Linked DNA regions of Homo sapiens. The protein of the gene in region 1 purifies or fractionates together with the protein of each later gene. This does not show direct contact. Each region holds a gene or a part of one and is shown in the gene's direction. Other genes may lie near its edges.

Region 1 (3,655 bases):
ATATACATTATTAATTTGTAAGAATAATAGAAAAGCAAAATTTAGTAAAACCACCCTTGACTGCTTTAAAGACACATTGGTGTATTTGGATCAGTTAAAAGGAATGGGTAAAATGACATTTATCAGGCTGGGAATTCCTTGTAACTAGAAACCGGTCCTAATTATAATTACCCCCTCTTCGGAATCTGGTTAGCCCATGGGAATGTCCTAAATGGGAATGTCTTATAAGAGAAAACAAAACAAAACAAAAAATGCAGAACCACCAACTCAAACTAATGAAACTAAAAATGTCAAAAATATTAATAAAATTGTGCGCTGATATGATAGTATATTTCTGGCCATTTAAAATAAATGATAAAATTACTTATTTTCAGCAAGAGGTTAAAAAAAATTTAGGCATTTATTTTCAGCAAGAACTACTTACTTTTTGTTTATTTTTGGTTTGTTGCAAAATATAGGACAAAAAGAAGACAAGCAAGGGTGCTTTCTGGGAATTGTAACCATCAGGAAGGAACATCTAGTGATGATGAACTGCCTTCAGCAGAGATGATTGACTTCCAAAAAAGCCAAGGTCAGTTACCAAGTTTCTAATATATCATGGTTTGAGTTTTGAAATGGTGAGAAACACTTTGCTGGGATTGCCCTTAATAAGTACATAAGCTATATAAAACAGTTGGGTAAATTCAGGAAAAATGAAACACATTTTTCCTCTGTAAGACTCTTTTCTCTGAAAAAATGGAGTAAAATGAAGGAAGGAACATTGTGAGTATTCTTACATCTTCATAGTTTTTTCTCTTAGACGTTCTCCAATTAATAATGAACATCTTCATTTCATTTCTTTACCACACATACTTTCTATATTGTCATTTTTAACTTAAAACATTTGAATTTGGTGAAACTTTTTAGCATGATGAGAAGATGCATATAGTTGAAAAATTCTAGGCTCTGGATTTAAATAAATTTGGGTTCTAAGGGAGATTTTTTTCTGTGTAATCTTAGACAAATTTTTTGACCTCCCTAAATTTGATGTTGTTTTGTCTGTAAATAAGTAGACTATACCTATATGGTATGGAAGATAGCTACGATGGTAAAATGAGATTAATGTATTTCTGCGTATAGCAGGGGTATATATGGTAACTTCTATTAGTGTTGATATTATTACTTTGTTGATAAAGTGATTTAATAAAAATTTATATTAATATAAAAGGACAAATTTTAGCTCAATTGATTACAGTCCATCATGACCGTGTTTTTAAGGAAGCATACTTAAAGTTCACAACTTAAAATGCATAAAGAGACTTATTTTGTTTACAGGTGACATTTTACAGAAACAGAAGAAAGTTTTTGAAGAAGTGCAAGATGATTTTTGTAACATCCAGAATATTTTGTTGAAATTTCAGCAATGGCGAGAAAAGTTTCCTGACTCCTATTATGAAGCTTTCATTAGTTTATGCATACCAAAGCTTTTAAATCCCCTAATACGAGTTCAGTTGATTGATTGGAATCCTCTTAAGGTATTTATGCTTAACATATGAAAAATTATCCTGATTATATTAGTTGCTTAAATTCCCTTACTATTGTGTTAGGCATTAAATACCTTACCCTTAGAGTCGGAGCTGAAATTTAGAGCTTTGGAACAATAGTCAGAAAATGTGTGCTTTCGGCTACATTCTTCTTTTCTTGGCTGTCACTTGATTTTTAGGCTAAGCATCATTAACATCAGTAAAGCAAACACATTTTTTTTTAGCTTCTTGTACATTAAATTTAAAATCCTCCCAGAAAGTATAAGGTACTGTTGGGTTTGGAGAAAGTAGATATAAAAGCCTTGTTTCAAGAATTCTTAAGTTGGAGATGACATACTGGGAAGAGTTGCTTAGGGTTGTGTTGAGAAGGTGGAATGCAAGCCTTTGAAGAGTTTATGGGGTAAACAGGATGAATCAGAAAGGGAAAGGTGTTTCATAAAGGTGTAAAGGGAGAAGTATTAGTTCAGGAGCTAGAAATTGCACAGATATTTAGATCCTAAGTTAAGGAATATAAACTCTGTTCACTGAATTTGACTGACTAAAAGAAAAAAAAAGAAGTATGAACTCAGCAACTGCCTACTGTGTAATAGGACCTTTAACTAAATCACATACAAATTACATATTTATGCTTAGTGAATTGAAGGGGCCAGAAATAAACTTTGCTTGAAGTGGATGAATTTTTTTTATAAACAAATTCCATGGCTGTTTCAAGTGCCTAACAAATTTGTATTTTGCTCCAAGCAGAGTACTTGCCATGTGGTAGGGTCTAAAGGCTCCGGCACACACTAGGTAGTTGTTGAGTGTTTGTTGTGTGATTGAATGCATGAAATGCAGCTTCTTCTTATGTTACTTAGACACCATGTCTCAGTCATGCTGTCCTGCAATCCTGCCTAGCCTTGGTGGTCTAGTGTTAAAATAGGGAATTAATCTCTTCTGATCCTTAGAAAAGCTCTGGTGATTATTGAAAAAAATAATAACTATTTAAAAATACACTAATGTTGAAAGATTTCTTTATAACTTTTGTAATTTTCTTTGTAAGTTGGAATCCACAGGTTTAAAAGAGATGCCATGGTTCAAATCTGTAGAAGAATTTATGGATAGCAGTGTGGAAGATTCAAAGAAGGAAAGTAGTTCAGATAAAAAAGTCTTGTCTGCAATCATCAACAAAACAATTATTCCCCGACTTACAGGTACTGCTTCGTAACCTTGGTAAAATTAAATTATTTTCTGACAGAGTATATAAGGTTGTTAATTTCTGTTATATTCACAAAGTTTTTTCATAAGTTTTTAATCTCAAGGAAATGTTATATGTAGTAAAAATCAACAGCTGTCAAATGTAAGGTGGTTAAAAAATTTGTGTTTGTACAGGTGGTTGGCTACCAAACTGCTAATACTCAGATTGATCACTAATCCTCATCTGACGTATCATCAGCAGTTCCAACAGTTGACCCTTCTTTCTTCCTAGAAACACTGTCTTTACTTGGCTACCAAAATACCACACTCTTAGTTTCCTGCCCACCTCTCTGGTCTTTGCTGTCTGCTTGTCACCTCTTTGACTTCCAAGTGCTACAGTATCTCTGGATTCAGGTCACTTACCTTCTCTGTTCTATTTACTTCAGTCACTTAGTATTTAAAGTCAGTTTAGTGTTTGTGGCATTCCCGCTGCTTTTATGGCACTTCAGTCATTTTTTAGCACACTTCCATCCATACTACATGTGTCCTTTTTTCCCCTTAACTTCTCTAATTGTGTTTCTTATCCTTTTCTTTAAAACCATTGCTTCATCTGGGAGTGGTGGTTCATGCCTGTAATCCTGGAACTTTAGGAGGCCAAGGCAGGTAGATCACCTGAGGTCAGGAGTTCAAGACCAGCCTGGCCACCATGGCGAAACCTCGTCTCTACTAAAAATACAAAAAACTAGCTGGGTGTGGTAGCAGGCACCTGTAATCCCAGCTACTCAGGAGGCTGAGGCAGGAGAATTGCTTAAACCTGGGAGGCGAAGGTTGCGGTGAGCCGAGATCGTGCCATTGCACTCCAGCCTGGGTGACAAGAGTGAAACTCCGTCTCAAAAAAAAAAAAAATTGCTTCATTTCACTCACATTTGCCACTAGCAGCTATGAGCACTTAACATTAA
Region 2 (3,655 bases), on another chromosome or scaffold:
TGATAAATGAGGATGAGAAAACACAAGAAATTATCATTTTTCAGTTTACTATTGCTAGTTTTCCAGCATTTGCAGTTTTCTATGTCTTCAGCTGGCTATTCCTAGAAATTAATACTTGCTGAATATCCAAATTAATAGATGTTATTTTAAATTACATTTGTCATTGTTCTAGAACAAGTTTCTTGTTCTTTCACCTTTGTGTATGCTGTGATTAGGTTAATTTTATCTCCCTGCCTAGGGTTTGTGATCTTCTACTTAGCCATAGAGTATGGAGTACAATGGATATTTATTTAAAGAACATAGACTAAAACATGAACCGTGTGCTAGTCCAAGCATTGGCAAACTACAGCCCAAGACAAATCATGGCAAATCCTGCCTGCCAGCTGTCTTTGTAAATAAGGTTTTTTTGGAATAATGCTATGCCCATTCATTTACATATTGTCTAAAGCTGTTGTCATGCTTCAATAACAGAGTTGAATACTTGGAAAAGAGACCATCCAGCCTGAAGAGCCTAAAATATTTACTATTTGGCCCTTTACAGAAACACTTATATTAGGCAATTTTATAATTTTTTAAATGTTTTTCTAGGTACCAGTCAAAAAGATGAAACTTTTAACCTGCCCAGACTCTGTATCCGGAAATTCTTCCCAAAGAAAAAATGCTTTGTCTTTGATCGGCCCGTTCACCGCAGGAAGCTTGCCCAGCTCGAGAAACTACAAGATGAAGAGCTGGACCCCGAATTTGTGCAACAAGTAGCAGACTTCTGTTCCTACATCTTTAGTAATTCCAAAACTAAAACTCTTTCAGGAGGCATCCAGGTCAACGGGCCTCGTAAGTCCCCTTCCTAGTACTTCTGCTCATTGTTTAAGACTAGAGGAGCATAGAATAACTTCCACCTAGTTTCAGCATTGAAAAATCCCAATCTACTGCTATATTTGTGTTAAATTCTAGATGGCACCAATGTTTCTAACATATATTGTTAGTCACATTTCCAGTCTAGGAAAAGGCCAAAGGAAAAAAGTTCTATTGCTTGAAATTGCCCTAGTGAACTGGACCTGCACTATGCAATAGAGTAGCCCCTAGACAAGTGTGTCTATGTAAACATAAATGTAAATAATTTAAATAGGGAAAATTTAAAAGTCAATTCACATGCCTGTATTTCAAGGACTAATATTTACACGTACTTAGTGACTAGCACACTGAAAAGCACATATACAACATTCCCAGCATTACAGAAAGCGCTTTTGAACAATACTGCAATAAAATAAACTAAATGGATGACTCTTTTTTATTGGAATAGTGTCATTTGTTTCATACATATTGATCAAATGCTTACTATGAATAGACTGAAGATACAGATATAAATGAAATAGATATGGTTCCTGTCCTAATGTTGGTTGGGGTTAAAATGGATGCAAACATTCAATTAACACAAGTCTATGTAATCTAGTACAAGAACTCTCAAATGTTGGTATGCATACATATCTTCTGAGGATCTTACCAAACACAAAAGTCTAATTCAATAGATCTCGGACAGGGTCTGAGAGTCTATTTCCAGCAAGCTTCCAAGTGATGCTGAGGACATTGATGCTGTGAGGAAAATAGGTGGTATTTGACATGCTCAGAATTACATGGAATAGAGACTTTCTTTACCACCAGAAACATTATCATTTGTTCTTCATATGCAGGTCTAGAGAGCCTGGTGCTGACCTACGTCAATGCCATCAGCAGTGGGGATCTGCCGTGCATGGAGAACGCAGTCCTGGCCTTGGCCCAGATAGAGAACTCAGCTGCAGTGCAAAAGGCTATTGCCCACTATGAACAGCAGATGGGCCAGAAGGTGCAGCTGCCCACAGAAACCCTCCAGGAGCTGCTGGACCTGCACAGGGACAGTGAGAGAGAGGCCATTGAAGTCTTCATCAGGAGTTCCTTCAAAGATGTGGACCATCTATTTCAAAAGGAGTTAGCGGTAATTTTTGTCTCAAATGTATACGGTTTAGGGTCATAGAAGCTAAAGTACCACAAGGAAAGAAAACTATTATTTATTTTGACGGAAGTAATTCCTCCTAGCTTCCATAATGGTGAAAACAACAGATTTGTGATCACATCAGTCAGAAGGACCAACTGTATTATTACAGACCCAAAGTTCTAAAACATTTTTTCCTGAATAATTTTCCCTTTACTTATGCATACAACTGACAACCAGAGCTTCTAATAAAATTACCTGCCCACTCTTCTCAGACTGATTTGATATTCTAGCCAAACACAAAGAAAATTTTCATCCTACTTATCTTGAGCAGGCTTCCGTTCAGCCACATTTATTCCATATGAAATCATTAGTCCAATATGCAAAAACAGAGTTTTCCTCTAACAGTTGACATAAAGCTATCAATCTCAGCCCTGAACCTCACCTCCAAAAAGAAAGCGACTTCAGCAGAAAGTGGGGTCAGAAGGAAGAGTGTGGTCCTGGTGAGGAGGCTGTCAGTTTCTCCAGCATCATTGACTTCTATTTTCAGAAATCGTTCCCAAAATTCTGAGGTCAAGCTAACATCCTTTCCCTGTTACTCTTTTTACTTCCTATTTTTACATTAAAGGCCCAGCTAGAAAAAAAGCGGGATGACTTTTGTAAACAGAATCAGGAAGCATCATCAGATCGTTGCTCAGCTTTACTTCAGGTCATTTTCAGTCCTCTAGAAGAAGAAGTGAAGGCGGGAATTTATTCGAAACCAGGGGGCTATCGTCTCTTTGTTCAGAAGCTACAAGACCTGAAGAAAAAGTACTATGAGGAACCGAGGAAGGGGATACAGGTAACCAAGATTTATCTGTCAATTATGGAAAGCTGCTGACCTGCCTCCTACAAACACCAAGGTGACCAAGCTTCACTGCATACAGATGTGCTTTTTTGTTTGCATAACATTCATGCTTTTATTCAATAACATATGCAAACAGGCTGTTATACCAGATATGTCCTAGGTGCTCATCAAAGAGAGTGCAGTCAATTAACTATTAAGTTATAAATTCAATTAGCAGATGAAGCACAAAGTTATTATTGTCATCATTACAGCTGGGCTTTTCCTGTTGCAAGAGACAGGAACCCAATGATGGCTGCTTAAACAAAAATGTAATTCATTGATTTAGGCTGCAAACTGGCTTTACAGGTCAGGTGGGTCTAAGGTTTCAAGTAACATCATGAACTGGCTCTCTGTCCAGTGTTCCCCCATCCCCACAGTTTTCTCCCTCCCACCATCCCTCTATCTGAGTCACTCTGATATTTGCTTTCTCAATGATGGCTTCATTCCCCAGCAGGCTCAGCCCATATGGGACCACAGCATTAACAGTTCCAAACTTAGAGCCCTTAATCTAAACAGGACAGAGACTCTCCTTTTCCCAGTATCTATATTAGCCTACTAAAAATGACTGCTAAGTAGGATGTTCTGATCGGCTTGCCAGGAGCATGTGTCTGTCGCTCCGACAGGGAATTTGACCACCAAGGACAATAGGGCCAAGAGAAAGAATTCCCAGAGGAGAAAGGATGGCAGGAAGACAAACAGGAACACCTGCTTACAGCCATTTCCTACTTCTCACTCTGTGTTCTCTGGGTCCTAAGGCTGAAGAGATTCTGCAGACATACTTGAAATCCAAGGAGTCTATGACT
Region 3 (3,655 bases), on another chromosome or scaffold:
TTTTTCCCTGCATTCACTAAAATAATCTCAGACCTTTACTCTGTGCCTTACTCAATTTTCAGTCATTTTTATTCTGTTCTTTACTGCTCTAATTTATCTACTAGCTCATTACTGATGCCATTTGAATCTAAATTTGTTTCCTTCACTCTGCAATCTTTTCATCTTATTCTGTGGTGTATTATCTTGTCTTTGAGCTTTTGTTATATTATATTTTTACTTCTCTTGAATCATCCATAGCTTGAGATAGCCATGGAGAAGCCACTTTCTCCCAGGCTGAGTTCCTGGGTTTTCTTTTCCTTTCTCCCCTCCTCCTTTCTGTCCTTCTGTTGGTTGTGGTATGTTTGCCTAGTTTCCATGCCATTTGTTTTCATCTTATCCATGCTTGATGTCAACACCTACATTATCCCCACCTTTTACTTGCTCAGATACAGTGTAAGTGGAGTCTCCTTGTCATTCTCCCCACTTATGTGGAACTGGTTGTCTTCCCCACTTCAAATGTTAGGTTGCTTTCTCTCTATTCTATTCTAGCCTGAAGAGGTGTGGGAGAGAACTGGAGCTCAGCTCATGCTGAGCGAGCCCCTTGTGGGAGGGCTAGCCTCTGTTCTATCTTCCCAGACTCCCTTAAAGTCTTGTCCCAGAGCCCCCTCCACCAGCCAGTGGTGTCCCTCTGTCACCACTCCAGGCTCTGGGTAGTCCCCAAGTATGGCCCAGCACCCTGGAAGGTGGCCAGCCCTGCGTGCCTGCCCTGCCACTCCCGAGCCCCTGTGATATGTGTGGGCTTCTGCCCTCAAGGGCTTTGTTTTCAGAGCTGCTCACCCACTCCCCTGTTGGCTGTTCAGAATCGGAGGGTATTTGTGAGAATCTCAGCATGACATTTCTTTCCTGGTTACTGGTTTCAGGGAATACAGATGGAAGAATTTTCTATTTTTTCCTCTTGGCTGACTCTTTTTACAATTTTAGCATGTTTGGTTCCCTTTTCTTATTTGGTTGATGCTGGTGAACTTTTGACTTTTTAATTTTTAATTTTTGTATGTTCACTTTATTGGGTGTTGGGAGCATGTGGTAAACGTGCCTGATAGCAATAACTGAAACATACCCTTAGAATGACCCTGTATGGCAGACGCATCTGAATGTGTGTTCTGAGCTAGGGAATCCAGGAGTAGCCAACCTGGAGGTTCCTTCCTTGTCTATAAAGGGACATCTGAGCCCCTGGCTCGTCCTGTGAAACATGGGCCGCACACGGGTTGAGGCCCCGAGTTTTGAGTTGAATGAAGATTGCCAGGTGGAGATTGTTAGGGAGAAGGTGCTAAGTGGAAATGCTATATAAACTGCATGCTTTTTGCAAGCCATTGTGGTTCTCCGCCACCATTGGACTCTCTGCCCTGTATGTAAGTCCCCAATAAAACCCCATGTCTCATTTGCTGGCATTAGGTCTCTTCGGTCTATTGAACCTGATGCCATCCCCATTGGAGTCAATAGAGGTTCGGCACAACAGGGAGGCAGAGTCTAGTCCTGCTTCATTCTACTTTCTTTGTCTGAAAGGGTTCCGTCGGTACTTCGATGTACTTCTTTCCTGTCTTCTTCCTCTCTCCCCCTCATGTTGTTATGAAATAAATTTTAATTCTTAATACCAGTGAACTGAGAGTCCATGATTAGGGTACAAGTATTGGAAGTGACTCAGGTGTGAGTTGCTCATGCCACAGCTTTTCTGTATTTCTGTAGTTGGTTCATGATCCTTCATAATGTCACATTTCCATGGTGTAATTTTAATGAAATTGAATCACTCAAAAGATCTTCAAATAACTGCACCCAGCCTCAAGTATAATGAATGACTGAGCAGCCCACTGGCAGGTCTATGGTGGAAGGCAAGCAGGAGTTAGGCTCTCCTGGGTCACTAGTTCATATTTTCTAGCTGATTAGGTGACACGTTTTTTGTTAAACATCTCAGATGGGCAGCAAATGACATCCTGGGCTCTTCAGCAAGTTGATGTACCACTTCCATTCCCAGCTGTCCCTCAGTCTGACTACTGTGGAACCATTCTTTCCACATGCTTTCTTGTAATACATCTTTGCCAGATGCCTTGTCAATTCAAATACCCTTTGACTTCCTGCTTCATTTCATTTTAAACCATTTTTCTACCTTCAACTTTCCCATATTATAATAACTATAGAGGCTCTTTCCTTAGCCCTCTGAGTGTCTTTTATTTGTTTCTACTAACCTTTCTGTCCTCTCTGTAAGACATAACATCCTGTCAAGTTCTTCCTTTAGCTCTTCCTGCTCTGCACTTGGCCTCACAGTGCTCACCAGCTGCTGTGATTAATTATATGCTGATTATCCTGTGCGTCACTCTCACTTTGATTTCATCTCTCCTCTTGGTAGCCCCAGGAACACCTGAAATGTAACGTGTTGAACAGCAAGCTCTGTTAATTTTATTCATTTGATGAGTATTTGCCAAGAGTCTGCTGGGTATCCTGTGCTATTCTAAGGCCTGGGAGAAGCACTTAAGCATTAAAAGCCAAGGCATTTTCTTTTTCCTTGCAGTTCCCTGCCCTGCCAGGAAACAAACTATTCATTATAAGAAACAACTAGAATGGGATAATATAAATATGCAAATGTATGATAGTACGGTGTGGATTATGTATATAATATAGGTTGGAGTAATTCACAATAAGGGAAAAAGCACAATGGAATGAGATTAGGATGGGAAGGAGGCATATGCGAGATGGGTCTTGGGAAGTAGAGGGAAGGGCATTTTGAATTTAGGAAGAAGGGTGGGTACAGGGCAGGAGTGACAGAGGCATGCAGGGGTAGGGAGGGAGCCCGCCACCCCCGGTGTCACATCTTCCACTCTAGACTGGCTCTTGTGACATCACCCAGCCACCTCTCCACACCCAGAACAAATGCATCAAATGTGATTCAAAGGCCCCTGTAAAATTTACAGATCTCGGAACTGCCTGTTTAGGGGACAGTAAGGAGCAGTTTGGGGCCAGTTAATGGAGACTCCTAGACAGAGGAGTTCAGATTTGATTGAGCATGACTCAGGGACCATTTGGGACTCTTGAGTCTGGGATAAGACAAATCTGAGGAAATTTCATCCAGCTGTGGACTATGGCAAGACAGTTTGGTTCAGGGTAGAGCAGGACTGTGGAGCTTGGGCTTGCCTTGTGCTTCACATGAATACTTACTAAATGTAGAGGAGTTGCCTTACCCTGCTGAGCCAGCTCACCTGTCGGGAGTGTGGTTACGTGCACCTCCTAGGCTGGTTGTGAGTAGTAAATGAGCTGATGTTGGTACAGTGGTTAGCATGGGCTTGACACAAAGTGGGAGCTCAAACAAATGTGACTGGTTTTTTTTTTTTATTGTTAATTCATTTAACAAATACCTATTAGACTCCTTCTGTAGGCCAGGCACTCTTCTAAAAGCTGGAGATACAACAGTGAATAAGAAAGCCCTCGCGGTGCTCTCATTCTGGTGAGAGACGGAGAATGAAAAAGTACATAATATACTCTCAGGGATGGCAGATGATATGGAAAAAAGAATGTACTGCTGGGATGGAACAGGATTTCTCAACCTAGGCACTATTGACATTTAGAGCTGGATGATTCTTTGTTGGAGGGGGTGCTGTCCTGTGCATTGAAGGATGGTTAGCTTCGT

The links.
Region 2: the proteins of GCFC2 (region 1) and GBP1 purify together in Homo sapiens (affinity purification with mass spectrometry; one large-scale study listed by BioGRID and IntAct). This does not show direct contact.
Region 3: the proteins of GCFC2 (region 1) and PPIL1 purify together in Homo sapiens (affinity purification with mass spectrometry; one large-scale study listed by BioGRID and IntAct). This does not show direct contact.

The regions. Positions count from the first base shown.
Region 1 is NC_000002.12:75,686,885-75,690,539, reverse strand, and holds part of GCFC2 (intron Large complex component GCFC2), read left to right. Parts: intron 1-458; coding exon 459-571; intron 572-1,314; coding exon 1,315-1,514; intron 1,515-2,562; coding exon 2,563-2,713; intron 2,714-3,655.
Region 2 is NC_000001.11:89,055,168-89,058,822, reverse strand, and holds part of GBP1 (guanylate-binding protein 1), read left to right. Parts: intron 1-588; coding exon 589-831; intron 832-1,688; coding exon 1,689-1,969; intron 1,970-2,594; coding exon 2,595-2,807; intron 2,808-3,607; coding exon 3,608-3,655.
Region 3 is NC_000006.12:36,864,686-36,868,340, reverse strand, and holds part of PPIL1 (peptidyl-prolyl cis-trans isomerase-like 1), read left to right. Parts: intron 1-3,655. UniProt on the Homo sapiens protein: Involved in pre-mRNA splicing as component of the spliceosome. PPIases accelerate the folding of proteins. Catalyzes the cis-trans isomerization of proline imidic peptide bonds in oligopeptides. Catalyzes prolyl peptide bond isomerization in CDC40/PRP17.